Linked DNA regions of Homo sapiens: all the other regions are linked to region 4. Evidence: fine-mapped expression QTL. A gene starts in region 4. Each other region holds a variant in brackets. All regions are shown on one strand. Distances are between the middles of the regions. Region 1 has its middle 42 kb from the start of LACTBL1. Region 2 holds the start of MIR3115 (microRNA 3115). Region 3 overlaps LUZP1 (leucine zipper protein 1). Region 4 holds the start of KDM1A (lysine demethylase 1A).

Region 1 (8,143 bases), 89 kb before region 4:
AGTTACACAGCTAGCAAGGGCAGGAGCCAGGATTCGAACCCAGTGGTCTGCTCTAAAACTCCGCTATCTCAGGTCCCTCCACACTTGGACACAGAGTTCCACTCACACACACAACAGAAGACACCTGCAAACAGAGAGGGGCAAGCACTCCCAACATAAGCACACACATACAAGCATGTATCCATCCACTGCAGTAAACACACGTACACACAAAGACATACAGCCACAAGTAAACAGATGTGTCTGTTTTGCTAACCAAGAAGTTCCCCAGTGCCGGCACAGTGGCTGACACACAGTAGGCACTTAGAAAATATTTCCAAATAAATCAATACCCTTGTGCTCATTCACCTTCCTACCCACGATGACACATGAACACATGTGCACAGACTCTCATGCATGGAGACATTCAGGGAGGGTTCCATGGACTAAACAGCGGGTTAAGAGCAGTCTTTGGGTTCAGGTATATGACAGTTCAAATCCTGTCTCCATCATTAATGCTGTGTGACACAGGGAAGTCACTTCACTTCTCTAAGCCTCAATGTCATCATCTAGAAAATGGAGATTAATTCATTTTTTTAATTTTTTAGACGGAGTCTCCTCTGTTGCCAAGGCTGGAGTGCAGTGGTGCAATCTCGGCTCACTACAACTTCTGCTTCTCAGGTTCAAACGATTCTCATGCCTTAACCTCCCAAGTAGCTAGGATTACAGGCACACACCACCACACCCGGCTAATCTTTGTTTTTTTGTTTTTTAGTAAAGATGGGGTTTCACCGTGTTGGCCAGGCTGGTCTTGAACTCCTGACCCCAAGTGATCTGCCTACCTCGGCCCCCCAAAGTGCTGGGATTACAAGCATGAGCCACCACACCCAGCCTAATTCATTATTTTCTGAGCAAATATTTATTGGCTGCCCATAAGCGATGGTCAGTTCACCAGGTACTGGAAATAGAGCAGTGAGCAAAACAGACAAAAACGCTTGCACACACAGAGCTCATGTCCTACTAGGGGCAGATAGGCACTTAAACAATCAAACACAATATATTAGGTGGGGAGGAGGCCACGAAAAAATTAGCAGGAAAGGCTTTGGGGAGTTCTTGAGCGGGATTGCAATTTTAAAATAGACAGAATGGACACAGAAGAGCACATAATCTAAGATCCCGTTTGTATGAAGATCAAGAAGAGTTCATCAATGGTGATAGAATTCATAAGAATAGTTACTTCTGGGAAGTGTGGAGTGGAACCTTACAGAGGGGCTGGAAATGTTCTACTTCTTGACCTAGTTGGTGGTTGCACAGGTACAGGCATACGTAAAAAAGAAAAAAAAAACAGGCACAAAGATTAGTGCACCAGACACATTTTTGTACATTATCCCTCAGTTTACAAAAACAGGATGGTCAGGGAAGGTCTCATTGAGAAGATGACATATGAACAAAGAAATGACTGAAGGGGGCCAGGTATGGTGGCTTGCACCTGTAATCCTAGCACTTTGGGCGGCCAAGGCGGGTGGATCACTTGAGGCCAAGTGTTTGAGACCAGCCTAGCCAACTTGACGAAATCCCATCTCTATTAAAAGTAGAAAAATTAGCTGGATGTGGTAGGCATGCCTGTGATCCCAGCTACTGAGGAGACTGAGGCAGGAGAATCACCTGAACCCGGGAGGTGGAGGTTGCAGTGAGCTGAGATAGCACCACTGCACTCCAGCCTGGGCAACAGAGCAAGACTCTGTCTCAAAAAAAAAAAAAAAAAAAAAGAAATGGCTGAAAGGGTGAGGGAGCAAGCGAGTGGCTCACCGGGGAAGTGCTTTCCAGACAGAGGGGACAGCAGGAGCAAAGGCCCTGAGGCCAGAGGATGCCTGGAGTGCTCAAGGATCCGCAAAGAGGCCAGGATGCCTGGAGCAGAAAGAATAAGGGGGAGAGTATGGAGAGCTGGGGTCCTCTGTGGACCATGAGGGGAACTTGCACTTTTCTCCGCATGAGATGAAAGCTTGTGGAGTGTCTGAGAGCACCAGTGCCGTGATCTGACTTTTAAAAGGATTGCTCTGATTGCCTTGCAGAATGATGGTGGGGGGATGTATCAGTCAGGATTCTCCAGAGAAACAAAACCGGTACGATATACATTAAAAGATTTATTTCAAGGAATTGACTTACCCAAATCAGCTAGCACATCCAGAATCCGTTGGGTGGACCAGCAGGCTGGAATCTCTCAGGCAGGAGCTGATGCTGCAGTACAGAGGCAGAATTTCTCCTTCCTTAGGGAAACCTCAATTTTGTTCTTAAGGCGCCTTTTGCTGATTGGATGAGGCCCACCCAAATTACTGAGGATAATCTCCTTTACTTAAAGTCCACTGACTGTAGATGTGAGCTACATCTACAAATACCTTCACAGCAACACCTGGATTAGTGTTTGAATTATTGGGTTCTACAGCTTAGCCAAGATGACACAGAAAACCAACCATCACGGGGAGCCAGGGGAGAAGCAGGGAGACAGTTAGGATATAACGGTAATAACCCTAGAGGGAGAGGAGAGTGGCTTGGAACAGGGCAGCAGGAGCAGAAGTGGTGAAAAGCGATGGGTTCCAGGCACAGTATGAAGGTCAAGCCAGCAGGATTTGCTGATGGATTGGATGTGGGTGTGAGAGAAACGGGACCAAAAAGTCCTCCAAAGTGTCTGACCTGAGCAACAGGAAACATGGAGCTGCCACTAACTAAAATGAGGCAGACTGCAGGAGGAGCCGGTTTAGGGGAAGATGGAGAATTCCATTTTAGACATAAGTTAGAGATGCCTCTTAAACATCAAGCAGGCAATTGAATATATGAGTCTGGAGGCAGAGGAGTAAATCTGGAGTCTGGGATTTAGCCAGATGAGTCTGGCAAAGCCAGAGCGGAACCAAGGAGATAAGAGTAAATGCGAGGGTGACAATAGCGGCCGGGCGCGGGCTCACGCTGTAATCCCTGCCCTTTAGGAGGCCGAGGCAGGCGGATCACCTGAGGTCAGGAGTTCAAGACCGGCCTGGCCAACACGGCGAAACCCCATCTCTACTAAAAATACAAAAATTAGCCAGGCGTGGTGGCGTGCACCTGTAATCCCAGCTACTTGGGAGGCTGAGGCAGGAGAATCGCTTGAACCTGGGAGGCGGAGGTTGCAGTGAGCCAAGATCATGCCACTACACTCCAGCCTGGGTTACAGAGTGAAACTCTGTCTCAAAAAAAAAAAAAAATGAGTGACAATAGCAATACACCTTGGGGCCAAAGGTAGGTACAGAGCGCAAGGCAGCATGACGGATGAGGACAAGGCAAAGGTGTGGGACCAGTGCATTTGTTATTGGGGTGCAGGGGGAGATTGTTGGAAAGAGGAAGCTGGAGGAAGTGACTTAGGAATATGAGAGGTAGTAGTTGGAAATCGGGGTCCTTAAAATTAAGATGATTGAGAGGCTGCTGTTGTTAAGTCAAGGGAATGACCACAGGACACAGGAGGTAGGATAGATGGCAAGCAAGGAGCTCAAGGAACCCAGGGGCAGGGTGTCAGCAGCATCATCCTAGATGGTTATTAAAAGCACCAAGAATTCAGACCCAGCCAGGCGTGGTGACTCACACCTGTAATCTCAGCACTTTGGGAGACCGAGGGGGGCAGATCATTTGAGCCCAGGAGTTCAAGACCAGCCTGGGCAACATGGCAAAACCTCATCTCTACCAAAAAAACAAACAAAAAAAAAAAACACCAAGACAAAAAATTAGCCAGGTGTGGTGGTGTGCACCTGTAGTCCCAGCTACTCGGGAGGCTCAGGTAGGAGGAGGAGGCAGGAAGGGCAGGGGGGTGGAAAGTCTCCCTGATGGCCTGAGAGTCAAGCTGGGAGTGCTAACCCTCCACCTTGCAAGGCCTTCGTGAGGGCTAAATAGGCCCACACTATGTAGGGAGGGCTAAATAGGGCTAATGGGTGGCCACAGTGCCCAGCAGACAGCCTGGCACATAGT[A/G]AAGGCTCTGTAAGCGCTACTCCCTGTGACCCCCTAGAAGCAGCCCTGCACTGACAGTGGGGGATGGGAGGCGGGGCAGGGATGGAGGCTGAGTTTGGCCTTTTTTCCATGGAGCCGTTCTGCCCCCTGGGGGATGGGGCAGGCAATGGCCGGAGCTGAGCCCCAGAGAGAAGTATTTTATAATATCCTGGGGTAGGTGGGGAGCGGTGGGTATTTGACTCCCTGCCCCCGCCCCTACCCTGACTGGGAGCCAGGCCAATGTGTGAGGAGCTAGAGATACAGTGATGGGGCAGGAAGCAGAGAAGGTCGAATCAAAGATTATTCCCCTATCAGCTGCCCTGGGTACCCCTTTCAAAGGCCCCACTTCTGACTTATTAATTAATAATACTGGTTGGGCCCGGTGGCTTACACCTGTAATCCCAGCACTTCGGGAGGCCAAGGCAGGAGCATCACTTGAGGCCAGGAGTTCAAGACCGGCCTGGGCAATGTGGTGAAACCCTGTCTCTACAGAAATTTTTAAAAATGAGAAATAATAGTAATAATAATGTATGCCAGCTCCAGGCTACTGGCCTCAGAATTTCTCTACATGAAGAACTCGGGAGCAGCCAGTCACTGGGGTGAAGAACTAGGAGACTGGTCTTGCAGTTGGAGTTACCTAGCCAGGGTGCTGTTTGTCTTCAGATGGCGAGTTTGTTGGAGGCAGTCTGGGGAGGGTCAGCCAATGGACCCCGCCAACCATGACACCTCCATCATATTTCATCACTGAATGTTATGACCACCTAGATGGTTACTACCAGGGTGGACTATTTCAGGTTTAATAACCAACTTCCGACTGTAGTTACTGGATGCTGGTTGACATTCCTGTTTAAGTTAAGAAGGTAAGATAAAAAGTGAGGCCGGGTGTGGTGGCTCACGCCTGTAATCCCAGCACTTTGGGAGGCCAAGGCAGACAGATCACGAGATCAAGAGATCGAGACCATCCTGGCCAACATGGTGAAACCCTGTCTCTACTGAAAATACAAAAATTAGCCGGGCATGATGGCGCGCGCCTGTAGTCCCAGCTACTCGAGAGGCTGAGGCAGAAGAATTGCTTGAACCCAGGAAGCGGAGGTTGCAGTGAGCTGAGATCGTGTCACTGCACTATAGCCTGGCAACAGAGCAAGACTCTGTCTCAAAAAAAAAAAAAAAAAAACATAAAAAGTGAAATAGGCCAGGTGCAATGGCTCATGCCTGTAGTCTCAATATTTCGGGAGGCCAAAGCAGGAGGATAGCTTGAGCCCAGGAGTTTGAGACCAGCCTGGGAAACATAGTGGGACCCTATCTCTACCAAAAAAAAAAAAAAAAAAAAAAAAAACATTTTTTTTAATTAACTGGGCATGGTGACATGTGCCTGTAATCCCAGCTACTCAGGAGACTGAGGTGGGAGGATCATGTGAGCCCAGGTCAAGGCTGCAAGGAGCCATGATCGTGCCACTGCACTCCAGCCTGGGCGACAGGCTAAGACCCTGTCTCAAAAAAAAAGTGAAACAATAAAGATTATGTTGGAACTTCATTCATTCCTCAGTGACATAAGTGATTTCTATTACAGAATTTAATTTTTATTTACTTATTTATTTATTTTGAGACAGAGTCTCACCTGTAGCCCAGGCTGGAGTACAGTGGTGCAATCTCGCTCACTGCTACCTCCGCCTCCCGGGGCCCCGTTCAAGCAATTCTCCTGCCTCAGCCTCCCTAGTAGCTGGGATTACAGGCACGTGTCACCTTCCCAGCTAATTTTTGTATTTTTAGTAGAGACGGGGTTTCACCATGTTGGCCAGGCTGGTCTTGAACTCCTGACCTCGTGATCCACCCCCCTCGGCCTCCCAAAGTGCTGGGATTACAGGCATGAGCCACCGCACCCGGCCTAGAATTTAATTTTTAAAGATGACATTAACAACTGGCTCCCAAAATTCCTGGAAATGTACCAGTTGGCTCTCAATATCCAGTGTGAACTATCTCTCATGCAACACCGGGCTGTTCTCCCATTTCACAATGGTGGAAACTGAGGCTCACAGAGATGGGGTATCTCAAGCGCTGAAGGTCAAGCTGAATGTGGCCTGGTTGGGGCAACACCCAGGTACATTTTGCTCTTACGCTGAGTTCTTTCAACTGTTTCCTAGATTTTCAAACTCCCTTCTCAGAAAATTCCAGCATCTTCTCTCCCCATGTCTTCTCTGCATCCCTAGAGCTCTTCAGTGCGATACACAGAATTTCTTCTTCCTCCTCCTCCCTCTTAGAAACCAAATTTCTGGCAAACGCAGCCTGAGGCTGAATCCTTCTTCGCAGCTTTACAGGGTCACTAACTCTGGAGTGAGCCTCAGGGGCCATGAAGGAGCCCCTGGGCCCAAGGGAGAATGACAGGTGCCCAGCCCAGCCAGCACACACTCAGGTGACCCAATAAACCCATCTTCAGTTCACACTCCTAAATCCCACAAGGATTGGTACAGAGAGTTATAGAGACCTAGAGACCTGTGTTGGGATCCCACTGATAAACTTGTGACCTTGGCAAGTCAGCTCACTTCTCTGAGCAAAATGGGGTTTCTAATCCCCACCCTCGGGATTGCTATGACAATTATCTAACAGCTGCCTTCCTTCTTTCCCCAGTGTCCTTAAATGGTGTGATTCACTGGGTGCCAGGGGCCCCTCACTTATCCCCAATGTCTGGAATTGCACCATTAAAGGGTCATATCTTGGGTTTTTAGCACTGCCTTCTTTCATCTGTTCTTTTTCAATCCTACCACTCCTGGAGAAATAGCTGATAAATCCTGCGCACCCTTAGGAGTGAGTTGATCCAGGCTTCCTCCCTGCCCGAGGCCCTGGGGTCTTCCCCTTCACCATCTCTCTTCCTCCCCCAGGTGGGAAGGGGCTGAAGCCTGACCTCCCAGCTGGAGGCCACAGCCAGAGTCCTTGGCTTGGGTCTTCCCTCCACGGAGTCTTAATCTCCCCAGGTGGGGAAAGGAATCCTAACCCCTTGCTTTTCCTCTTCCCCTGCAGGGCCCCCAGGTTTTCTGAAGGGCTCCTTTTCTTTTCTGTCTTTTTTTTTTCTTCTTTTTTTTTTTTTTGTTTTTTTTTTTGAGACGGAGTCTCACTCTGTCACCCAGGTTGAAGCAGTGGCGCGATCTCGACTCACTACAACTGCCACCTCCCAGGTTCAAGCAATTCTCCTGCCTCAGCCTCTCAAGTAGCTGGGATACGCCCAGTGGGAGGATCGCTTAAGCTCAGGAGTCTGAGACCAGCTGGGCAACATAGTGAGACTGTCTCTACAAAAAAAAAGAAAAGAAAAGAAAAGAAAAAATAGCAGGGTGTGGTGGCACATGTCTATGGTCCCAGCTACTTGGGAGGCTGAGGCGGGAGGACTGTTTGAGCCCAGGAGGTCATGAGGCTGCAGTGAGCTGTGCACCAGTGCACTCCAACCTCAGCAACAGAGTAAGGCCTTGTCTCAAAAAAAAGCAGAAACAAAAAATCAGATTTACATGTTGTTTGAAACAAAAATTACATAGCTTAAAAATATTCAAAAACCTACCACATCTATGTCTTGGCAGGAAAAAGAAAAAAATATTCAAAAACCACTAGAATCCGTTTCACTAGTGATGAGATGTTTGCTAAGGACACTTCCAGCTCTAAGTCTTAGAATTTCTGCATTCAGACTGGGAGTGGTGGCTCATGCCTGTAATCTCAGCACTTTGGGAGGCCGAGGCAGGTGGATCACCTGAGGTCAGGAGTTCAAGTCAAGCCTGGCCAACATGGTGAAACCCTGTCTCTACTAAAAATACAAAAAATTAGCTGTGCGTGGTGGCATGCACCTGTAATCCCAGCTACTCGAGAGGCTGCGGCAGGAGGTTGAACTTAAACCTGGGAGGCAGAGGTTGCAGTGAGCCGAGATCATGCTATTGCATTCCAGCCTGGGCAACAAGAGTAAAACTCCATCTCAAAAAAAAAAAAAAAAAAAATCTGCATTCATAAAAGAAAGACTGTCAGGTCACAGGAAAGGGAGGGAGAATATTGCAGATGCTCTTGGAAGGATGGGGCAGGGCAGGTGAACCTCTTGTCCATGGCTACTTGAGTAGTAGATTCTGGAAGAATCAAAGAGCTTCCAGCTGTGTGACCTCGAACAAATTGCTGAACCTTCCTGGAT
Region 2 (8,000 bases), 21 kb after region 4:
AGTGTAAAATAAATGCCTGAAATCATTTGAATTCTCATTTTATGAAGTATGATGCATACATTCAGAAAATAGGCATAGGGTTAGTTTTCTTGCCACGCCCCCCCCCTCCCCCGCCCCCTCACCACTCCAGCCTTTTTGGAACACATTTCGGTGTTCTGATTTGGACCTATGCTCCAAAATACCTTACTGGAGGGCTGAGGGAAGAAAGTGACAAGCTGAAAAGGTAATTCAACAGAATTCTTATGTTCTTATATTTTGAGGCATTATGAATGGATCAAGATAAATACGCTATACAACACACGGTCCCCACTCTCAGATAATTTATAGCCTAGTATGAGACACAAGTGTAGACATAAATGCATAATGGAAAGCAAAAAACTCTTAAGTGTGATATCAATATAAAAATTCTAGAGGCATATAGAGGTAGGAAGGGTGAAGAGTAGAGAATTGGTAGTATGGAGGGCAAATTTTTTAAAAAATAGGCATTTTCTACAAAAAAATAAGATTCCCCCAAATGTAGTAGTTCCTCATTGACTTTATTCTACAAATATTATTGTACGATGATAATTATTTTGTCACAGTCACAGTGCTGGATTCTAAGGGTTCAAAGAGAAAGAGTACATCCACCTGCAAAGAATTTGTAGTCCAGTGGCCTGGTGTGGTGCATGCCTGTAATCCCAGCACTTAGGGAGGCCGAGGCAAGGGGATCACTTGAGGCCAGGAGTTTGAGACCAGCCCAGCCAACATGGTGAAACCCCATCTCCACTAAAAAAAATATATATACACACACACACACACACACACAAATTAGCCGGGAGTGGTGGCTTATGTCTGTAATCTCAGCTACTCAGGAGGCTGAGGTACCAGAATCACTTGAACCGGAGAGGCAGAGGTTGCAGTGAGCTGGGATCGTACCACTGCACTCCAGCCTGGGTGATAGAGTGAGACCCTGTCTCAAAAAAAAAAAAAAAAAAAGTGCAATTCAGTTTAGGGTTACAGATGTTAGTAAGTAGCTACAATGAAGAAACTACAATAGAAATGTATAGAAAGTATGGTGAGAACTCAGAAGTTTTTATTTTTTTAATTGATAAATAAGATTGTATTTATCATGTACAGCGTGATGTTTTGAAGTATAAATACATTGCAGAATGACCAAATTTAGCTGATAAACATGCATTACCTCACATGGTTATCATTTTTGTGGTGAGAACACTTACCCACTTTCTTGGTATTTTTCAAGAATACAATGTATTGTGATTAACAATAGTCACCATGTTGTATAATAGCTCTCTCAGAAGCTGTTTTTAAATAATGTTTCTCCCTAAAATTGGGTTTTGGAAATTTTGTGTTAAACATGAAAGGATGAAGCAGTTTTAGATCCTTGATTTTTAACTATTTACTGCTTTTGGTCGATAAGAACCCTTGAATCAGATGCTACAAGTTTATGTTTGGTCTTTGAGAGATTGACCTGCTTTTCTTAATGATGTCATTTCATTGATTTGTTGTACTTTTTATTAAGGCAAAATAGTAATTTGTTTAGCTGATCACCTTTATTTTTATAATTTATTTGAATTCTTTTTGTTGCCATCATTTATTGGGTCTGATCATGTTGTAATAGAAGAACAAGATTTGTAAGGATTTTCTCGTCTACAAAATGAGACTTGTTATGAGAATCAAATGAGAAAATGCGAAACCCACCTTTATGTATAAACATCTTGTATTTATTAAGCAGAGTTGATTGAACAAAGAATAGGGTGGATTGGTGTTTTATTTAGGAAAAAAATCAGGGCAGCTTTAGACCAGACAGACACACATACTGTGTTACTTTGGGAAAGTGTTTGTGGTGGGCCATTTTCAGTAATGAGTCGATTATGAAATAGATAACTTTTTAAGCATCTGGAACTGTTTGTGTGTGTGTGTGTGTGTGTGTGTGTGTGTGTGTGTAAAACTTAAATCTTGATAATAATCTTTTAAGTTAAATCATGAGAATGACAGACTTTGGGACTTTCTAACATAGTTTTTTTTTCTTTCCTTAAGAGAATAATATAATTGAAATTCTTGCATCGGCTGTTGAGTTATAAGAAATGTTTTGTAAGCTTTGTTATTAACCAGACACACCTTAAGCTTGGTAGTTGGACACATAACATCTGAATTGTAAGCTTTCTCTGGAACATTTTGAAAAGTGAACACAAACCAAGACTGCAGCAAAATAAGTAAGGATCAGGAAAATTTCTACTATGGAATGTGGAGGGAAATAATATGTGAAAAAGTAAATTCTTTCCATTGGCTTCTAAAGCTTTGCATTTCTCCCTAGCTTGTAGGGCCTTTTACTTTCTTTTGATAAGATCCTTGCTACTACCCAGTGGAAGTCTTCAAGCACATATCTGTGGTGTTATTGTTCTTTCAGCAGTTCAGTGGAAGTTCCAGGCAAGCTCCTGCTTCAAGCAAAACAATTTTTCTTTTTTTCTAAACCTTAAGAAGGCTGTTTTACTTCAGTATTTTACATGATACTGTAACCCAGGGATTGCTATTCTAGTTGGAACTCATAATTTCATTTTGACTGTTGCTCAGGCTGGTCTTGAACTCCTTGTTGTAAGTGATCCTCCTGACTTGGTCTCTCCCAAAGTGCTGGGATTACAGGTGTGAGCCACTGTCAATTCCTTTTTGAAACTGTGACTTTCCTTATGTTCATGAGATTAATCATGCATTTATGACTGCTTCAAATTATCTGAGCCTATTATTACTTCCATGCTATTTTGAAGTCTTTTAGCCCCATTCTTACTTCTGAGTTCTATTGTTTAATTTCCAACCATCTTTAGAACATTTCCATTTAATTGTATTAGCCAGTCTCCCAAATTTCCCATTTTGTTTGTAGCATTACTAGTCTTCTGAACTTAAAACCCTAGAGTCATCCTGAAAGTTCTTTATCCCTTTTACCAAGTCTGTTGTAAAGTCATGCATCTTACTGTGCAGTCTTTTTCATTTTTTAGGCCTTACCCATTTTTACTGTCACCTTTTTCTAGTGAATTTCAACTTGTATGTAAATTATTTCAATAGCCTTTGAATTGGATCTCCTTTATCTAGGTTTTCCCTCTAATCCATCTCGTACAAAGTGGCCAGATTAGTTTAACTAAAATAGCATTTGTTTTGTTGTCTTTGTGCCAAAGATCACACACTTTTCCTTCATTACTACTAAAATCACGTTCAGGTTTGGGTACTGGAAAGGGATCATTTTACCAATCCACTTGATCTCCCACTGCTTTTTCAGACCATCTCCTTCTGAAAGTAGGTACCGAGCAGTCCTCTGCACATACCATGTCTGTGCTTTTCTCTTTATCTTTGTAAATGATCTGGACCATAGTCGTGGTTTCACTGCCTCGCAGTCTATCCAGATCTCTCGGGAATTGTTCTGAAAGCTTCCCTGATTCTCCAAGACTGTGTCAGCTTCTCGTTTCTTAACAACAAAAGTTTCCTTGTAGGTATTTTTCATCTTTTCTCAACTAGATTATAAGCTTTTTGAAAACAGAGAGTCTACCTGTTCTACTTTTGTATTTGTGCTTTGCAGTTTTGGGGCAGATACGGTAAACACTGATTATTAAATAAGAAACTCAATTAGTGCGTTAATACGGTAGAGACATATATTCCAAGTTGGCTTTAACTTTTGAAATGTTTCTTTCACCTGCTAATTTATTAAATTCAATTGAAATCAGTAGGTTGGCCTTCACTTTTATTCCATAAATTTGGCCATTTTGGTAAATTTATCTTCTATTGGAAAATCGTTGCTTCCTAGATTTAGAAGTTTCTTAAAATGTTTGTAATTTGAATGTGATTCCAAGAAACTAGTCAAAATGTGAATCTGTGTTTCTGGAAACAACCAACCAGTGATTTTCACCTCCTTGTTTGTTTGCCAGATAAAAGCATTTGAAAGTCAACATAGACTTCCTTTTAAGATGTTGGAAGAGTGATCTCTTGAGTATTTGAATTCAGATGAGAAAACATTCAGTAATGTGATTATAACTACAACACTTCACGCTTCAAGAAGG[A/G]CTCTTAGATCTGAAGGTCTAGAAGACAACTGAAAGGCTGTTATGTAAGATAAATCAAAAAGATCTTCATTTTCAATTTGGAGTAGCTGTGTACAAATAAGCTGTATGAAGAGTCTCTACTTTAGGCCGATTGTGGTGGCTCACGCTCATAATCCTGTTGCTTTGAGAGGCTGAAGTGGGAGGCTAGGAGTTCAAAAACAGCCTGGGCAACATATCGAGAACTCGTCTCTACAAAAAAAAAAAAAAAATTAGCCAGGTATGGTGGTACATGCCTGTAGTCCTAGCTACTCAGGAGGCTGAGGCAAGAGGATCCCTTGAGCTCAGGAGTTCAAGGTTACAGTGAACTGTGATTGCACCACTGTACTCCACCCTGGGCGACAGAGCAAGACCTTGTCTCTAAAAATAATTAAAAAATTAAAAAGAGTCTCTGCTTCAAGCTTGAGGACTATTTTGTAGGTTTGGTGGTTTGGGATAAAAACAAAAGGGAGTTTCTTGTGTAGTGGTGCCAAAATCAAGGTGATATTACAAAGTTGCTTTTGAATATTTTCATTTTCTGTTTTGAATTTGCACTCATGGAAAGCTAACAGCGCTACTTGCCTGCTGTTAATGTGTCCTGAGCCACTATCAGAAACAGAGTCCTAGGCTGGAAAGACCCAAAGAGCAGATGAATAAGGGATTTTATATATATCATAATCAGAGACTACTTGGATGAAAAGTTAGCTGCAAGCAGTGTTGTGTATGTGCTGTTTTTAAGAAAATGTTCAAGAATTGGTCTATAATATACTGCTAGTAAAGATGATCTTTCAGTTGTCTTTGGAGAAGTAGGCATCTTCAAAATACTCTCAAGTATGATTGGAGTGAAAATAATAACTTCATTCTTTATTTCCAAGCAAGTTAAACCATTATCAAGAGATAAATAACTTGTTTCTTAATTTAATTTTAAGCACTTTTAAATTTTGTTTTCCATCATTTCTTATGTGGTACCTTCTGCTTGGTTTCTTTCTACTCCTCTGCTTAAATAATACTTTTGAGTTTCTTTTCTTGCTTTTTTTTTTTTTTTTTTTTTTTTGGAGACCGAGTCTTGCTGTGTTGCCCAGGCTGGAGTGCAGTGGTGCAATCTCGGCTCACTGCAACCTCCACCTCCCGAGTTCAAGCGATTCTCCTGCCTCAGCCTCCTGAGTAGCTGGGATTACAGGTGCATACCATAGCGCCTGGCTAATTTTTGTATTTTTAGTAGAGACAGCGTTTCACCATGTTGGTCAGGCTGGTCTTGAACTCCTGACCTCGTGATCCGCCCACCTCGGCCTCCCAAAGTGCTGGGATTACAGGCGTGAGCCACTGTGCCCAGCCTGGAGTTTCATTTCTTTTTTGACATTTTGTTGTTATGGGATCCCTTTTAAAAATCTTTGCAGGGTATTGAATATTTTCTACATTTTCCTGCATTTTTTTAAATTAAAAAAAATCTTTTTAAGAGGTTTTTTAATTCCTTTCTTCAAAACCAGAAGACAAAAAAGACTGCCTCGTTGCCCTTTTGTCCTGGTTAACCTATTGAGTACGCAAGTCAGGGGTAAGAAATCCATCTTTTTTTGTGAATCAAAGCACCATTGATTCACACACAAAAATCAGTCAAGAGCTACCTGTAGCTTAAATTAGTGAGTTTATTGTATGACATGTATTATAGTTGGAAAAGAAGGGAAATGAGAGGAATAGGAAAGATAAAGTAATTCAGGCTTAGGCTAGCTTCAAAGTGTGTGTTTTTTGTTTTGTCGGTTTTTTGCTGTTTTTATCTAAGTTTTTAGTGGTGAGATACCTTCATGACAAGAGACTGTCACTTTTATTTTTGCCAAGTCAGAAACATAATTTGAACGATAACAGCTGTATTATTCCTAATCTTAAGTGTGATTCTTGGAAACTATTTGTTTCATTGTTCTGAGTCCCTCCCTGCTCCCTTTCTTGCCCAAATAAAATTCAGTTTTCTGATCCAGCTTGGTTTTATTTGGAACCAAACGAAACAATGGCAACATTTTTTAAAAATCTATGAAATATATTATTTTTTTTTTTTTTTTTTTTTTTTTTTTTTGAGACGGAGTCTCGCTCTGTCGCCCAGGCTGGAGTGCAGTGGCGGGATCTCGGCTCACTGCAAGCTCCGCCTCCCGGGTTCACGCCATTCTCCTGCCTCAGCCTCCGAAGTAGCTGGGACTACAGGCGCCCGCCACTACTCCCGGCTAATTTTTTGTATTTTTAGTAGAGACGGGGTTTCACCGTTTTAGCCGGGATGGTCTCGATCTCCTGACCTCGTGATCCGCCCGCCTCGGCCTCCCAAAGTGCTGGGATTACAGGCGTGAGCCACCGCGCCCGGCCTATTATTATTATTTTGAGATGGAGTCTTGCTCTGTCGCCCAGGCTGGAGTGCGATGGTGTGATCTTGACTCACTGCAGCCTCTGCCCCCCAGGTTCAAGTGATTCTCCTGCCTCAGCCTCCCGAGTAGCTGGGATTACAGGCGAGCACCACCACACCTGGCTAACTTTTGTGTTTTTAGTAGAAATAAGGTTTCACCAAGTTGGCTAGGCTGGTCTTGAACTCCTGACCTCAAGTGATCTGCCTGCCTCAGCCTCCCAAAGTGATGGGATTACAGGCCTGAGCCACTGCACCCGGCTCTACAAAATATTTTTTATGAATAAAGCCAGAATTTACTAAGAGTGAATATATCTGATTTTAAGTTTATAGTAGAGTTTAAAATGTAGGACCTATATTTTCAAGATAAGTTTGCAGATTGGATTTAGTAACCCGATCGTCTCTTCATGATTGTATGCCTTTTTCCAAGGGCTGTAAATAGGTATACCTTGGGCCTTGTCTGAGAAGCATAACCTTCTTGAACCTAAAGGACCCTTCAGACGAGAGCTTAGTAAAATAAGTTTAGAATGAGATTCTATTCTACCTTCATAACAGAGCATGTATCTTCTAGCAACACATTCTAATATCATTGTCAGAAATAATTTCTTATATCTAAGTATCTTTTTATTCTCTTTGTTGTTCCCTTCTAACTCAAATGGTGGAATAATCAATCTGCTTTCTTATTGGGGTACGTATTTTAAAATAAACTTTAATGAAGCTTGTCTGAGTTTATCTAGATCATTGGGAGGTGGTATTTTATGTCTTCCAAAGATCACACTCATTTTCCTATAGTGTACCAGGTGACTAGAAGCTTAAGAGCATCATAGCATCTGTCTTGATGATAGATTTTGGAAGAGTTCAGAAGACAATCTATTCTTTATCAGATTGAATTTTCAAGCTTTGATTCTTTTCTTGAAGTTACTTCTACATATTAATCAGTGAGGAAAATTTCTTAACAAAGCTTATTATGTAGCATGAAGTAGAAGATTCAAGATCTTGCCTGCCTTTCTCTGTGTTACCACAAGTGTGTGTTTATCTACAGTACTTGGCACACACACACACACAGTGTCTTATTGTGTGTTCTTTAGTTTTATTTAGGAAGCACTGGCATATTTAACTGTACTAGTGTCTACTGTGTATAGTAAATGAAACTTCTTTGGAGACTGAGTCTTTTAATTATACTCCTTGCTTTGAAGAGAAGGAGATAATTTTTCATTAAAATTAGAAAGTTAAACGGATATTAAGTTGATGCTGAATTGCAATGCCAGATTCTAGAGTCTATGTCAGCTCCATTTTCAGTCTAGCAGCCGTTAGTAAAAGACACTCGGAATCCATTTTCCCCCATCCAGACTATTAATATTAAATAAGACTGACAGCAAGGATTTAGTGATTAGAAATACTATGTACTTTGTTCCACTGCCTTTCAACAAGAATCAACATGTAAAGTTGAAACTTCCTGACCAGAATTTGGAAGACTATGATGTAATTCCCTGGGCCTTGATTCCAGAAGAAGGAGCTCTCTGAATATGGGTTTACTAGTTGGTGGTGAATTCATGAGTCGC
Region 3 (8,143 bases), 89 kb after region 4:
GCCTCCCAAAGTGCTGGGATTACAGGTGTGAGCCACCACGCCTGGCCCAATGGTAAACATCTTTTAATGCATCTGTTCTCTGAGGCCTTTTCAAACCATCCTTCCCCGCAAGAGAAATGCACCATCCTAAATTCTGTAGATGCTTCTATCACTATATCCATGATACTTAAAATATCTGTCATCCTCTGCTGGGCTCTGAGAGCAGGGACTGTGTTATCTTCATTTTTCAGTCCTGGGCACTGAATACAGTGACAGGGGCAAGGTAGGAACCTTATAAATGTTTTGTAAATAAATTAATGTAATAGTTTTATTGTATTCTGTACTGGCCAAATTTACATAAAGGGGACTATTTTCAGATCTAGGCACTACATTCTAGGAAAGATGCTTAGCCTTTATGCCAGAGGCTGAAATGCAGGTGCCAAAGAGATCAGGCCAATGATTTAAATGAGTTAAAGGGCCTAGAAGGACTATGGCTAAGAGGGGCTATGCCCTACTTTTATATATAATCTCTTAAATGTAGCCAATGAATTCAGATTTCAAAAAAGAGGAAATAAAAAGAATACCACTGTATAGTCCCTCCAAAACATACATGCCTGCAAGTGGATATGGGAAGCAAATTTGCAACCTGTATTGGACAAAGGGATTAAGTAAGAGAGTAACACAATCAGAACTGCAGTTTTTGAAAGGCCATTCTAGCAGGATAAACTAGGGTGCTATTGTAATAGTCAAGGCAAGAGATGGGATAAGGGCCTGAACCAGGACAGTAGCAATGGGGTAAAAGGGTGGGATGGATGAAAGATGACCTGGTCTGCCCAGTTCTAATAATGAAGTCCAAGATTGCATGAACGAATCTGATAGCCACAGTACCAATTTGTAGGTTCATACTGGCTTTGTTTCCAAATAAACTGTTAAATCTCATTTTTAATAATTGAAATATGGGGCTTAATTCTTTTGCAGGCAACGTGATACAATGATTAAAGTTTACGAACTCTGAAGCCAGGCAGCCTAAGTTCAAACCCTGACTTTATTAGCTACTAGCTGTGTGACCTTGGATAAGTCATTTGAATTCTCTATGCTTCAATACCTATAAGGTTATGGTATGTGTAAATAAGTTAATGCAAGAATTGCTTAGACTAGTACCTGGTCTATAGTAAGTGTCATGTAAGTTTCAGCTTAAATTATTATTTATTATTTTTGGATTTCAACTTCTTAGTTTCAATCCCTTGACTAAATATTCTCTACACTGTCTAGCCTGCAAACATTCGCTATTTAAGTCTCATAGGCATGTCTTTTCTATATCTTCATCCAAATTGATGTTCAAAAACAAAATATAACCAAAATCATTAAAAACACCTCCTATAGATTAACACTGATCTATTACAATTCCTGAGTGCAACTATTCAAGAAGCTCCAAAGCCAGGTAAAATTTTTTTTTTTGTCTTGGGATCACATGAGAAAACATTAAATACCTAATGTTAGCACTTAAGACACATTACCTTTGTAGCACATTCCAATCCTCCAGCGACCTAGGAATCTTTCCAAAAATGAAATGCTCTGATATATATATCAAACTGCTATATGGTAATTATCTCTGGATAATGTGCTTTTTTTCTGTTTTTGCTTATGTCTATTCTCTAATATTTTTATACTGAACTTGTACCGATCGTTTAAATAAAATCATGGCAAGGCTTAAAGAAAAAAAAGAATTGTTATCAGCTAGCATGATTTATTCTTAGTGAACACAAGCTGGCTTCTAGGGATCACTGTTCTCATTCTTTGATCAATCAATTTTAGAATTTTACCAGAGATCACTGTCAAGTTTCCAATGACATCCTCAAACCCCTGTGACCCAGACGTTAACTCCAAATAAATCAAACACCTCTCAAATGGGCACAGTGGCTCATGCCTATAATCCTAGCGCACTTTGGGAGGCTGAGGCAGGCAGACAGCTTGAGCCCAGGAGTTCAAGACCAGCCTCGGCAACATGGTGAAACCCTTTCTCTACAAAAAATACAAAATTTAGCTGGGAGTGGTGGCATGCACCTGTAGTCCCAGCTTCTCAGGAGGCTAAGGTGGGAGGATCAACTGAGCCTGGGAGGTCGAAGCTACAATGAGCTGAGATCACACCACTATACTCCAGCCTGTGTGACAGAGTGAGACCCTGTCTCAAAAAACAAAACCAAAAATTTAAATTAAAAAAAAATCAAACAGGTCTATGGGGAGAATTAGAATTTGAGAGCCTTCAAAGTATGTCTAGAAGCCATTGCTTTCTGGTTAGCCACCACTACCACCCAGGTCCAACCTACCATCATCCCTGCCCTGGACTACTGATTACTGCAAAAGCTTCCTAACTTGTCTCCCTGCTCCCATCAGTGTCCATCCTTCCCCACCCTCCACAGTCTGTTCTCCCACAACAACCAGAGTAGGCCTTTTAAAACATCAGTCAGATCAAGTCACTCCTCTGCTCTAAGCTCTTTAGTGCACCTCACTTAGAATACAATGCACTCCAAAGGTGTCACATGGCTGTAAGGCCCTACATGATCTAGGTCCCATCACTCATCTGCTGCTCCTTCCCTACTACTCCAATCCAGCCACACGGCCTCCTTATGGGTCCTTATACATGACCAGTTACACTCATCCCTCAGAGATTTTATACCTGCTGTTCCCTCTGCCTAGGATGCTTTTCCCCCAGATATCTCCCTAGCTGGACTCCTCACTTCTTTTAGATCTTAGCTTAAAATATCACCTCATCAGAGGCCTTCCTTGATTGCTGTACATAAAGGAGCAATCCCTCAGCTCCCCACCACTATCACCTTACGCTGCTTTTTTGTCTTCTTAGCATGTACTATCTAGTGGATGTTATTTGTCTACTCACCTGTTTATTTATTTATATCTAATTATTCATTTTTATCTGTTTCCACCCATTAGAATATAATCCTTGAGAGAAAGGACTTTTTCTATTTTGTTTAATGCAGTATACTTAGTTCCGATAACTAAAGCGTGTAGTAAGTGGCCATTTTTTGTCATCAGAACATTAGCCCCAGTATATAGCAAAATATTTTATGTGTAATAGGTATGTGTAGGCTGGGTGCAGTGGCTCACACTTATAATCCCAGCACTCTGGGAGGCCAAGGTGGGCAAATCACCTGAGGTCAGGAGTTCAAGACCAGCCTGGCCAACATGGTGAAACCCTGTCTCTACAAAAAATACAAAAATTAGCCCAGGCGTGGTGGCACACACCTGTAATCCCAGCTACTCGGGAGGCTGAGACAGGAGAATCGCTTGAGCCCAGGAGGAGGAGGTTTGCAGAGGCAGTGAGCCAAGATCGCACCAGTGCACTCCAGCCTCGGCAACAGAGCAAGACTACGCCTTGCAAAAAATAAAAAAATACAGGGCAAGAGTTTGCCTTGAATTTTTCCACTCCTTCGAGAAGAGTTCTGTATTATCCCTAACTACACCTATTTCCTCAGAGGGGTTGACATGAGAGCAAGAGGCTTTGTTAAGATTCCTTTCCTATGCCCAGTCACTGCTATGACGAGAACCCATTTCCCACTCATTCTGAGCTACCCTATTGCTCTACTTTCCTAGGGAAGCTTTCTCTAACTATCATCCAGCTATCAGGAGCAACCAAGACCACCAGGTCTCTTGGCCACTGACCGTTCAAGTTCTCACTTCTATCTCTTCTATTTCATTAGTGCTCTCCTCTGCCTTAGCCAACACCAACCAATAAAATATTGGCACATAAAATCCATAAATGGCTAGGAAAAGAACCTAATTGTTGATCAAAAGGTTTTGTATTTTGCTTTGCTTTTCCAAGGTTAAATCAGTCACAGCCTCAACCAAAAAGTAACTTTCTTAAAAGGGAAACATTATAGTGTAATGAAAATAA[C/T]CCACTAGGGTGGTGGCTCATGCCTGTAATCCCAGCACTTTGGGAGACTAAGGCAGGAGGACTGCTTTAGCCCAGCAGTTTGAGACCAGCCTGGACAATACAGAGACCCAGTCTCTACAAAAAAATTAGCTGGGCATGGTGGTGCACACCTGTAGTCCCAGTTACTAGGGAGGCTGAGGTGGGAGGATCACCTGAGCCCAGGAAGTCAAGGCTGCAGTGAGCCATGATCACGCCACCGCCCTCCAGCCTGGGCAATGGGAGCGAAACCCAGTCTCAGAAAAAAAGGAAAGAAAATAATGCAGGTTTGAAACCTAGTTCTACTACTTGTGTGAACTTGGAAGAGTTATTTAACCTCTTTAAGCTTGTTTCCTTGTGGTGATGACAACAGTACTTACCTCACAGGGTTGGTAGGGCGATAACATGTCCAACAGGACTGCGCCCGACATAGAGTAAATATTCAATAAATGGTAGCTACTTCTTAAGGGTGGCCTAATTCTTACGGTTGCTAACTTCATGCAAGGATTTTTCACCCTCATCAGGTTGGTTGGTTAAGTACTCAGCATAGTATTTGGTTCATAATAGGCCATCACAAATACTGACTTTCCTCCCCACTTCCAGTAGTGGCAAAATTATAGTGGCTTCAGAAACCACCCAATTCTATTGGTACACCCAGGTTTCACTGTACAACATACTTACCATGTAGGTAATTCAAGCTTTCCGTCAATACTTCCGGCGGCTCTCCCTATGCTTGCTGTTTTGGAAACAGTCACTCACTCTCTTTCAAAGGCAGTTGTCTCTTGACCTGGATAGAATATAAACAGAATGGAAGAGATAGGTAATGCATGAATCATACCAAGACTGAGGTGACCCAGAGGGCTGTCCCAAAGACTTTCACATACAATTCACTGTCAGCAAGGGGCCAAGGTAAGATCTGCATCTAGATCCTGACACTAAAGGAACCTGGCTAAGCTGGCTATGTCTCTCTCAGGAAAGTCAAGAAAGAATTTGGCTGTAGGAGACTTCCCCTTTCCTATAAGATGATATGGTCCTAGGGTAGAACCCACTGTCTTTGCTTAAATTAAAACACCCGAACATTCCTCAACAGTCTAAAAATGTACATGACATCTTACAGCTAGGAAGCATCTCAGAAATCAGCTACAGGTTGAGCATCCCTGATCTGAAAATCCCAAATTCAAAATGCTCCAAAATCTGAAATGTTTTGAGTGCCCACATGACTCCACAAGTGGAAAATTCCATACCTGATCTCATCTGATAGGTCGCAGTCAAAATACAGGCACACAATACTCAGGTTTATTCAATGTCCCCTGGGGAAAAATAAAATTACCTTCAGGCTATATGTATAAGGTGTATAGGAAACATAAACGAATTTCATGTTTAGACTTGGGTCTTATCCCAAGACATGTCACTGTATACATGCAAATATTTTTTTTAAAAATCTGAAATCTAAAACACTTCTGGTCCCAGGGATTTCGGATAAGGGGATACTCAACCTTCAGTTAAATGTCCTTGTTTTACAGAAGGAAACTAAAACTTAGAAAGGGTGAGTCACACAATTATTTAGCAGAAAAGCAAGGATTCTACTAAAAATAAGATGTTCTAGAAGATAGGAAAAAAACATCTGCGGAGTATTTACCAACCCTGAGCACTATGCTTTATGTTTTATATAAGACAATAAGAAGATAATGTTACCTCTACTTTACAGATAAAGAATTTAAGTTTCAAGAAGTGACTTGTCCAAGGTCTTACAGCTTGTTATTAAATGACAGAGTTTAAACTCAAGTCTGTCTGACTTTGAAAGTCCCTTCACCATGCTGGCTCTCATTTTGTTGCCCTCTAGACTCGGTCCTCAAAAGAGCCCTGAACCACCCAATATCAATTAAAACTAAAAATAGAGCTTTTCTTTCTGCAAACTTACCCTCCAGTTTTGAAACAAGCAGGCTTCTACAGGAGAGTTGAAAAGCCTACCATCCCATTGAATCTTACCCCTAAAATTAGAGAAGAGCTACTACAGATGGAAGATCTGGGTCAAACTTCTTGTGTTATCTTACTCTTGAGGAAAATGGAAAGGTAGCTTCTAAGCTAGTGGTAAACCTAAAGCTTTTGTACATGATCTTACAAACTATCCTCCCTTCTTTCATCACAACTGCCTCCCTTACACATCCCTGCAAGCCACCTTGTGACTGCCTTCCAAGACTATTGGTCCCTTTAATCCAACTTCCACACCTCCACCAAAACATGCACACATGCACACATACCTGCACCTGCGCGCATGCATGAACGCGCACACATACACACACACACACACACACACACACACACCCATCCCTGCCTCTATCTTCCCAGAGAGCAAGGCGGCTAGAATTACAATGGACAAATAATGAGAGTTTTTTAAAAACAGCTTAAAAGATGAGGGGAACAGTAGTAACTCAAGCCTCAAGAGAATAAAATTTGAAAAGAATTTTTTTTTGTAGTGATGGGGTCACACTATGTCACCCAGGCTGGTCTGAAACTCGTGACCTCAAGCAATCTTCACACCTTGGCCTCCCAAAGAGAAGAGTTACTGATAGTATCGGCCAGGCACGGTGACTCACGCCTGTAATCCCAGCACTTTGGGCGGCCAAGGCGGGCAGATCACCTGAGGTCAGGAGTTCAAGACAACCCTGGCCAATATGGTGAAACCCCATCTCTACTAAAAATACAAAAATTAGCTGGGCATGGTGACATGTGCCTATAATCCCAGCTACTCAGGAGGCTGAGGCAAGAGAACCTCTTCAAACCAAGAGGCGGAGTTTGTGGTGAGCCCAGATCGCGCCACTGCACTCCAGCCTGGGCGACACAGTGAGACGCTGTCTCAAAAAAAAAAAAAAAAAAAAAGTTACTGATAATAAAAACAGCTAGAAAATAAGTATAAAAAAGGATCTAGGCCAGGCACAGTGGCTCATGCCTATAATCCCAGCACTTTGGGAGGCCAAGGCAGGAGGATTGCTTGAACCCAGGAGTTCAAGAACAGCCTGGACAACAACAAAGCAAGGCCCCCATCTCTACAAAAAAAAAAAAATTTTAATTAGCTGGGCATGGTGATGCACACCTATAGTCCTAGCTACTTGGGAGACTGAGACGGGAGGATCACCTGGAGCCCAGAAGTTTGAGGCTGCTGTGAGCCACAGTTGTCCTACTGCACTCCAGCTTAGATGACAGAGTGACGCTCTATATTTAAAAATAATTTTAAAAACGATCTATACCAAGGCGGCACCCAAGAGATAGCTTAGGTGGATGTGGGGGAAGCTTTAGCTCTCCACCCTCTGCTTTTAAAAAATAATCAATGGAAGTTAAAGTAAGTGTGATTGGTATTCAAATAGTTTTAGGACAGTTCCACAGACTTTCCGTCCTACCCCATCACCACCTGTCTCTTTCCCCCTCCCCACCCACCTTACACACACAACACCCACACACAAACACCGCCCCCCCACACACACACTCATCTTCTTCTGCATAGCCTAAAACCTCTCCTACATAAAAATTCTGAACTCTAAGAAATGGTCACATAAATCTGGTCTATCTCCCCTAAGGTCTCTGCAGCCCTAACAGTGATAGCAGCGCCCCTGCTAAAATCTACTGTCCCAGCACCTACCACCTACTGCCAAATTTGCTGACATGTTACTAAGGCCCAGGGGCTTTTCTCTTCAAAACAAGACAGAATGCACTGCCAAAGGGAAAGAGGAACTCCAGCTAATCCTGATTTGTTTTCAACTGTCTACGTTCTCTCATATTTCTAAGGGGTAGAAGTAAGCAGTAACTGATTTCTTTCTTCTGAATGCCATTTACTTCTTGCTTCCTCAGCGTACTTGCCCTCTGTCCCCAAAACAAGAGGATGACTGTAAACATCCTCAAATTCCTTAGTGATGCTGCTTCAGAGAGCTTTCCACCATGACAGATCCATCCTCATCACTTCCCTCAAGCATCTCTTCTGGCACTTATTGTTTCTGTTACTGTTGGTGGTGATAGTGGTGGTAGTATGTGTGTACGTGTCTGTCTGCCTAGAAGCAGAGACTGAAGGATCCTTACAGATCACAGAGTCCAACCACCTCCTTTCCCAGAGGAGCAAGTGGGTCCCAGAGAGGAAAGGAGACTTGCCCAAGCTTACAAAACAAGCTCAAGTGAACATTTTTGTCCCCCAAACACTTTGATAATAGATAAAAATGTCAGTAAGAAATTCTGCTTTCAGTATGACCC
Region 4 (8,141 bases):
CCGTATGATTCCACTTACATGAGCTATCTACAATAGTCAAATTCATAGAGGCAAAGAGTAGAATGGTGGCTGCCAGGGTCTGGAAGGAGGGGCAAATGTAGTCATTGTTTAATGTATACAGAATTTTGCAAGATGAAAATAATTCTGGAGATTGTTTATGCAACAATGTGAATGCATCTAACACTACTAAACAGTATACTCAAAATGGTTAGGATCATAAATTTTATGTTATGTGTATTTTATCACAATAAAAACATCTGATATGAATTAGTTATTTCTGGGGAAAAAACGGGTAAGTGCCACCACATCTGGCTAATTTTTGTATTTTTAGTAGAGACGGGGTTTCACCATTGTTGGCCAGGCTGGTCTCCTATTCCTGAACTCAGGTGATCCACCCGCCTCGGCCACCCAAAGTGCTGGGATTACAGGCATGAGCCACCACACCCGGCCAGGAATTCTTTATGTAAAAATATCAGTTTTAGTGGCTGTGATATTCCAATATAGAATCATGCCTTGCTAGGACCATGCCTCACTGAACGATGGGATACATTCTGAGAAAAGCGCCATTAGGCAATTTCATTGTTGTGTGAACATCATAGAGCATACTTAACACAAACCTAAATGGTATAGCCTACTACACACCTAGGCTATATGGTATAGTGTATTGTTAATAGGCTACAAACCTGTATGGCATGTTACTGTACTGAATACTGTAGCAATTCTGTCTAAACATAGAAAAGGTAGAAAAGGTATGGTAAAAATGTGTTATATAATTTTATGGGAACACTATCTCATATGCAGTCTGTTGTTGATGGAAACATTGTTATGCGGTGTATGATTGTATCAAATTGGTTACCACTTGTTGGGGCTTTTTAAAATTTTTATTGTTTTAGAGACAGGGTCTTGCTCTGTTGCCCAGGCTGGAGTGCAGTGGCGTGACCATAGCTCACTGTAGCCTTAAACTCCTGGGCTCAAGCAATCCTTCCACCTCGGCTTCCCAAAATGCTGGCATTACAGATGCAAGTCACTGTGCCTGGCCTTTGTTGGGTTTTTAGGTTAGTTCTCCTTTATCGTCATTACGTATAACCTGAGATACACAGTGTTGAAGTTAAATCTGTACACATACTGAATCTTTCCCTAGAATGCTTTCCTGAAAGTAGAATTACTTGGTCAAAGGGTATGTATGTTTTTAACATCTAATTTCAAGTTTTATCAAACTATTAAATGTGCAAACAAGTCAGATAGAACTACAGGATTTAAAACAAGCTCCAATCCACTGCCTCACCTCTTTCCACCGTCAAGTTCCAAGCCTTAGAGACAACCAATTCCAACTTTTTTAGCTGTTTCTTCTGTATTTACCTTGATATTTCTAAATAGTATGCTTATATTATTTTTTGATTTCTCAATTTTGACATTATGTATTTTATATATATATATATATATATATATATATATATATATATATATATATATATATATATATATACTTTTTTTGAGACGGAGTCTCGCTCTGTCGCCCAGGCTGGAGTGCAGCGGCGCGATCTCGGCTCACTGCTACCTCCGCCTCCTGGGTTCACGCCATTCTCCTGCCTCGGCCTCCGAGTAGCTGGGACTACAGGCGCCCGCCACCATGCCCGGCCAGTTTTTTTGTATTTTTAGTAGAGACGGGGTTTCACCGTGTTAGCCACGACGGTCTTGATCTCCTGACCTCGTGATCTGCCCGCCTCGGCCTCCCAAAGTGCTGGGATTACAGGCATGAGCCACCGCGCCTGGCCAACATTATGTATTATATTTTTATGGTGAAAAATAATTTAGCTCCCAAGCAGCACCTCCCCCAACAACCTCCCTACTTCCCTAAATCCTTAAAACCTTCTCATCTTTCTCCCCACAAACTTTCTTTTTTCTCCATTCTCTTAATGTAATTCTATCACTTTGGTTAAAACAATATTCACTGCTCGGCGGGGCGCGGTGGCTCACACCTGTAATCCCTGCACTTTGGGAGGCCGAGGTGGGAGGATCACTTGAGGTCAGGAGTTGGAGACAAGCCTAGCCAACATGGCGAAACCCTGTTTCTACTAAAAATACAAAAATTAGCCAGGCATGGTGGCACACGCCTGTAATCCCAGCTACTGGGGAGGCTGAGGCAGGAGAATCGCTTGAACTTGGGAGGCAGAGGTTGCATTGAGTCAAGATTGCACCCCTGCACTCCAGCCTGGGCAACAGAGCAAGACTCTGTCTCAAAAAAAAAAAGAAGAAACAAACAAACAAAAGAACAGAAAAAATAAATAAAACAATATTCACTGCTTACGTTTTTATGGTCATGTTAATACAGTTCACAGCTGAGCCATATGTTGTACTATGATTATATTTTCTTTCTTTTTCTTTTCTCTTTTTTTTTAGAAACGCAGTTTCACTATGTTGCTCAGGCTGGACTTGAATGAACTCCTAGGCTCAAGTGATTCTCCCACCTCAGTCTCTCGAGCAGCTGGTACTACAAGTGCGTGCCACGCCACTCGGATACATTTTCTTTCTTGCATAGCTTTTACTTTTTTTCCTTTCTACATTTGATTGCCTTTTTGTCTGTTTGCTTAGTTTTTTACAAAAAACAACTTTACTGAAGTACTACAGTTACATAAAACATACCTGTTTTACATGGATAGTTCATAGAGTTTTGACAAATATATACACCTATGTAACCATCACCCTAATCAAGATATAAAACATTTCCATCACCCCCAGCAAGTTCTTTCTTGTTCTTTTGCAGTCAACCCCCGACCCCCATCTCAGGCAAGGGCTGATTGGAGCCTATTACTGGAGATTAGTTTTACCAGTTCTTGAACTTCATGTAAATGGAATAATTTTTTGACAATTTCACTTCGAAGAGACAGACTATTAAAAAGACAATTGTTTGTGTAATAAGTACACGCATGCTAAAAGTACACGACCTGTTCCAGTTTTGGGTTAGCAAGGGATTCCTCGAAAAATTAAAAGAATAAACCGCTACTATCATTATTAGAAAGAATTAACCTGGAGTAGAAAGAGGTGTTATGTGGATGGGGATGGGGGACATGAAGGATGGGGGACATGGGGGATGGGGGACATGGGGGATGGGAGAAGCGCAAGACATGGAGTGCGAATGAGGTTGGGGTCCAGCCAGAAGGAAAAGCATGAACAAAGGCTTGGAGACAAGAGCAATTCCGTCTGGACTCAAACCTGGATTTCGTAACTTGTCTCCATTTTACTACCATCGAAACTGCTGTGCTCTCCAAGTTTTTTGCCCAGTCCAAGCAGGGCAATTATGAATAAGTAAGACGCTCTACCAACATATTTCAGTGTTTTCCCCCATTAGACTGTAAGTTCTTTGAAAGCTAGAACTTCATAATGTAACCCTTGTTACGTAGTAGGCAAGCATTAATAAATACTGGTTGAATTAACGAATAATTGGGTGAGTGAATGAACGAACGCACGCATGCAAACCCGAAAGTCCCTGGAGGAAATGGTCACCTTCGGAGGTTTAGTCTGGCCCAGAAGCCCTAAGACCACGGACTGTGCCAGGTCCCACTCCAAACGCCGGGGAGACGCTCTAGGCAAGCTACACGTTCTTTGCTGCGGTGCCACTCTAGCCGCGAGAACGCCGCTCTATGGCTGCGGGGGAGGGGCGGGGCTCGTGGGTGTCTCCGACCCTTTTTGTCCCGGCGCGGCGGGAGCGCGCTTGGCGCGTGCGTACGCGACGGCGGTTGGCGGCGCGCGGGCAGCGTGAAGCGAGGCGAGGCAAGGCTTTTCGGACCCACGGAGCGACAGAGCGAGCGGCCCCTACGGCCGTCGGCGGCCCGGCGGCCCGAGATGTTATCTGGGAAGAAGGCGGCAGCCGCGGCGGCGGCGGCTGCAGCGGCAGCAACCGGGACGGAGGCTGGCCCTGGGACAGCAGGCGGCTCCGAGAACGGGTCTGAGGTGGCCGCGCAGCCCGCGGGCCTGTCGGGCCCAGCCGAGGTCGGGCCGGGGGCGGTGGGGGAGCGCACACCCCGCAAGAAAGAGCCTCCGCGGGCCTCGCCCCCCGGGGGCCTGGCGGAACCGCCGGGGTCCGCAGGGCCTCAGGCCGGCCCTACTGTCGTGCCTGGGTCTGCGACCCCCATGGAAACTGGAATAGCAGAGACTCCGGAGGGGCGTCGGACCAGCCGGCGCAAGCGGGCGAAGGTAAGGCTCGACCCTTCCCTCAAACGACACCGCCTGGTGCCGAGCTTCCCCGAGGCTTCTCCGCCCTCCCCCGCCGCCGCCGGGTCTTGGGCCCTGCGACCACTCAGACCTCCCCTTGTATCGCTGCGCACGCCACGTCCCCTCTAGCTGGACGGGTGGGGTGAGAAAGGAAAAGTCTTTGCCGGTGTTGACTGCGGTCTTTGTGCTGGGTCCCGAGCGACGTGGGAAGGGGCATCGATGATTGCTGGGAGGGGTATTTTATTCCTTAGGTCTTTCTTGCACACCTTTTCATTTTCTTGACTGGAAAATGGCTCCCTGACGTGGGGTTACGGTTGGCGTTCTTGGAGACCTCACTTGTTTGTTCACAGATAGGTCTGGAAGCTGTTGGGCGATATTGATGGCGTTTCAGCTGGGTGCACGAGGGGGCTGTAGGTTGATGCTGAAGAAATCGCCTTAGCCGGGGAGATGAAAAGAAAGGGTCGTTTTTGCTTTTGTTTTTGTTTGAGCAAAACCCTGCTGTGTGGTAGGAGTTCTAGTCTTTTTTTTTTTCTTTTTTAAAATCCTCTCAGCGATCTTTTGGCGCAGAATTTTGCAGATGAGGAAGCTGCTGATTGAGAGAGCAAATAATAGTCAAAATGCAAATATATGGGAAGAAAAGATTTGACTCCAAACAGTATATACAGACAGTGACTGCCTCAAATGTCTGTGTCCTAGATGCTATATTCAGCGTGTCACCAACATTACTTTTTTTTGTTGTTGTTAAATATCAACGGGCAGGTATTGCTAGCCCTATTTTAGGAATGAGTAAACTGAGGCACACAATTTAAGCAACTTGCCTAAAGTCACAAAGCTAAATAAGTGATGGAAGTGGAATGTAATTCCCACATTCATGTTGTTACAGGGTATCATCAGCCCTTGAAACAAAGGACCACATGGGACACTGTGTGCAGGGCACTGGGGCAGTATTAGGGCGCAGACTTTAGACTTGGGCCTTTTCTGGAGATTTAATGGTCGGTCTAGTTGGAAAAAACAACCTGGATATATATGTGCGTGTAGTCAACATTTAAATAAAAATTTGCAGATTATATAATTTATGCCTGAAAAAATTGTCTACATAATTTTTAAGTGGGAATACCAAGTCAGTGTGTATGGGGAGCTTCTTGAGATGAGTATTACCCAGTCTGAGAGCTCTCATATTTATCTGCCTACTTGAGCCAACTCTCTAAAGTATAACCAGTGCTGGATGAAAGACCGTTTTGGAGGCAAGACTTTCTGGAGCTTTTACCAAAGCATGGGTTAGAAAAGCACAGAGGTTGGTGACACCAGCCCTCAGAAATGAAATAAAGGGCAGAAGTCAAGAGTGTTATTTTACGATTTCAATAGACAGGTGGCCAGAAGCCACGTATAAGATGTTTTTAAAAACAGATTTATTGGCTGGGCACAGTGGCTCACTCCTGTAATCCCTGCACTTTGGGAGGCCAAGGCGGGTGGATCACCTGTGGTCAGGAGTTCGAGACCAGCCTGGCCAACATGATGAAACCCCCGTCTCTACTAAAAATACAAAAAATTAGCCGGGCGTGGTGGCGGGCGCCTGTAATCCCAGCTACTCCGGAGGCTGAGTTAGGGAGAATTGCTTGAACCCGGGAGGCAGAGGTTGCAGTGAGCCCAGATCGTGCCACTGCACTTCAGCCTGGGCAACAAGAGCGAAACTGTCTAAAAGCAAACAAAAAAACAGGCTTATTGGGATAATGCATGTATAATAATATTCACCATTTTAAAATGTATGATTCAGTGGTTTTTAGCATATTTACAAGATTGTACAGCCAACACCACAATTGATTTTAGAACCTTTTCATCATCCCCAAAGACATCTGTATCATTAGCAGTCACTCCCCAGTCCTCCCTACCCCCAGTCCCTGGCAACCACTAATCTACTCTTTGTCTATGGATTTGTCTATTCTGAACATTTTATATAAAATCTTATGTAGCCTTTTGTATTTGGCTTTAGCATGTTTTCAGGGTTCATTCACGTTGTAGTGCTTTCATTCAGTACTTGATAACTCTTTATGGCTGAATAATATTCCATTGTATGGATATACCAAATTTGGTTTACCCATTCATCATTTGACGCACATTGGGGTTTGTTTCCAAGTCTTGGCTATTTTACATAATGCTGCTGTGAACATTAATGTACAGTTTATTTTGTGAATATGTTTTCAGTTCTCTTTGGGTGTGGGCCTAGGAATTCCTGGGTTTTATGTTAATTCTAGGTTTTACTTTTGAGGTATAGCCAAACAGTTTCCCATAGCAGCTGCACCATTTTACATTCCCATTAGTAAATATATGAGGGTTCCAGTTTCTCCAATGTTCTTCTTCGTTTTTTTTTTTTTGTTGTTGTTGTTTTTGAGATGGGGTTTCGCTTTTGTTGCCCAGGCTGGAGTGCAGTGGCATGACCTCGGCTCACTGCAACATCCGCCTCCAAGGTTCAAGTGATTCTCCTGCCTCAGCCTCCCGAGTAGCTGGGATTATAGGCATGCACCACCATGCCCGGCTAACTTTGTATTGTGTTTTTAGTAGAGATGGGGTTTCTCCATGTTGGTCAGGCTGTTTCAAACTCCTGACCTCAAGGTGATCTGCCCACCTCGGCCTCCCAAAGTGCTGGGATTACAGGCATGAGCCACTGCGCCTGGCCTTCTTCTTCTTTTTTTTTTTTTTTTTTTTTTTTGCTGAGACAGTCTCTCTCTGTCACCACCCAGGCTGGAGTGCAGTGATGTGATCTCGGCTTACTACAGCCTCCTCCTCCTGGGTTCAAGCGATTCTCCTGCCTTAGCCAGCCGAGTAGCTGGGATTACAGGCACCTGCCACCACCTCTGGCCAGTTTTTGTATTTTTAGTAGAGACAGGGTTTCACCATGTTGGCCAGGATGGTCTTAAACTCCTGGCCTCAAGCCATCCACCCACATCGGCCTCCCAAAGTGCTGGGATTACAGGTGGAGCCACCTTGTTGAGCCTCCATATCCTTCTTGACATTTAATATTGTTTGTCTTTTACTGTAGCCATCCTATTGGGGGTAAAGTGGTATCTCATTGTGGTTTTGATATGCAGTTCCCTAATGACTAATGATGTTGGGCATCTTTTCATGTGTTTATTAGCCATTTTTATATTTTTGTTGAAATGACTATTCAAATCCTTGGCTCATTTTTAAAAATTGAGTTGTCTTCATCATTTTCTAGTAAGAGTTCTTTACATATTCTGGTTACGGAAATTTGTGATTTTGATGAGATCCAATTTATTCTTTTGCTCCCTTTACTTCTGGTGTTATATCTAATAAACCATTGCCTTATCCAATGTCACGAGGATTTACTCCTATGTTTTCTTCTAAGAGTTTTTTAGTTTTAGCTCTTGCATTTATGTCGATGATCTTTTCTCAGTTAATTTTTGTATATGGTGTGAGGTAGGGGTTCAGTTTCATTATTTTGCATGTTGTCCCAGCACAGTTTATTGAAGACTATTCTTTCTCTCAGCGAATAGTTGGCACCCTCATTGATTAACTATAAATCTAAGAGTTTATTTCTGGACTCTCAACTCTATTCCATTGATCTATTATATATTTCCGTCCATTCCAGTACCACACTATCCTGATTACTTTAGTTTCATAATAAATTTTGAAATTAGGAAGTGTTCCTCAACTTTGTTCTTCTTTTGCAAGATTATTTTGGCTGTTCTGAATGCTTTGCATTTCCATATGAATTTTAGGACCAGCTTGTCAGTTTCTGCAAAAAGGGCTGCTGGGATTCTGATTGTGATTGTGTTGAATCTGCAGATTGTAAGTTTGGGGCACACTATTAGATTTTACTGTTATTTTTTAAGCTATCTCCTACAAGAAAGATTTCTTTTTTTAGCTAACTGATTAATTTTTTGGAGGCAGGTTCTCACTCTGTCACCCAT

What was found. PIP is the estimated chance that this variant, and not a neighbour inherited with it, causes the effect.
Region 1: its variant is the best candidate, but not a certain one, in a credible set for the expression of KDM1A in whole blood (TOPMed, PIP 0.62).
Region 2: its variant is the best candidate, but not a certain one, in a credible set for the expression of KDM1A in nasal epithelium (TOPMed, PIP 0.62).
Region 3: its variant is the best candidate, but not a certain one, in a credible set for the expression of KDM1A in whole blood (TOPMed, PIP 0.58).

What each region holds. Positions count from the first base shown.
Region 1 is chr1:22,926,409-22,934,551 of GRCh38, forward strand. No RefSeq gene overlaps it. Among named protein-coding and RNA genes, the nearest start is that of LACTBL1, 42 kb to the right of the region's middle. RefSeq lists a silencer at 3,970-4,154. The variant A/G (reference allele first, on the strand shown) is at 3,970.
Region 2 is chr1:23,036,348-23,044,347 of GRCh38, forward strand. All of the region lies in intron 2 of KDM1A (lysine demethylase 1A), which reads left to right. MIR3115 (microRNA 3115) reads left to right here and starts at 7,958; the gene lies at 7,958-8,000. The variant A/G (reference allele first, on the strand shown) is at 4,044.
Region 3 is chr1:23,104,437-23,112,579 of GRCh38, forward strand. It overlaps LUZP1 (leucine zipper protein 1), which reads right to left. Exons shown (of 4, transcript NM_001395462.2): 2 at 4,586-4,691. Among named protein-coding and RNA genes, the nearest start is that of LUZP1, 60 kb to the right of the region's middle. The variant C/T (reference allele first, on the strand shown) is at 3,890.
Region 4 is chr1:23,015,754-23,023,894 of GRCh38, forward strand. KDM1A (lysine demethylase 1A) reads left to right here and starts at 3,715. Exons shown (of 21, transcript NM_001009999.3): 1 at 3,715-4,194. The coding sequence starts at 3,844. It overlaps TEX46 (testis expressed 46), which reads right to left and starts at 99. Exons shown (of 3, transcript NM_001242521.2): 1 at 19-99. The coding sequence starts at 20. RefSeq lists enhancers at 3,519-4,206, 4,207-4,892 and a silencer at 3,962-4,031.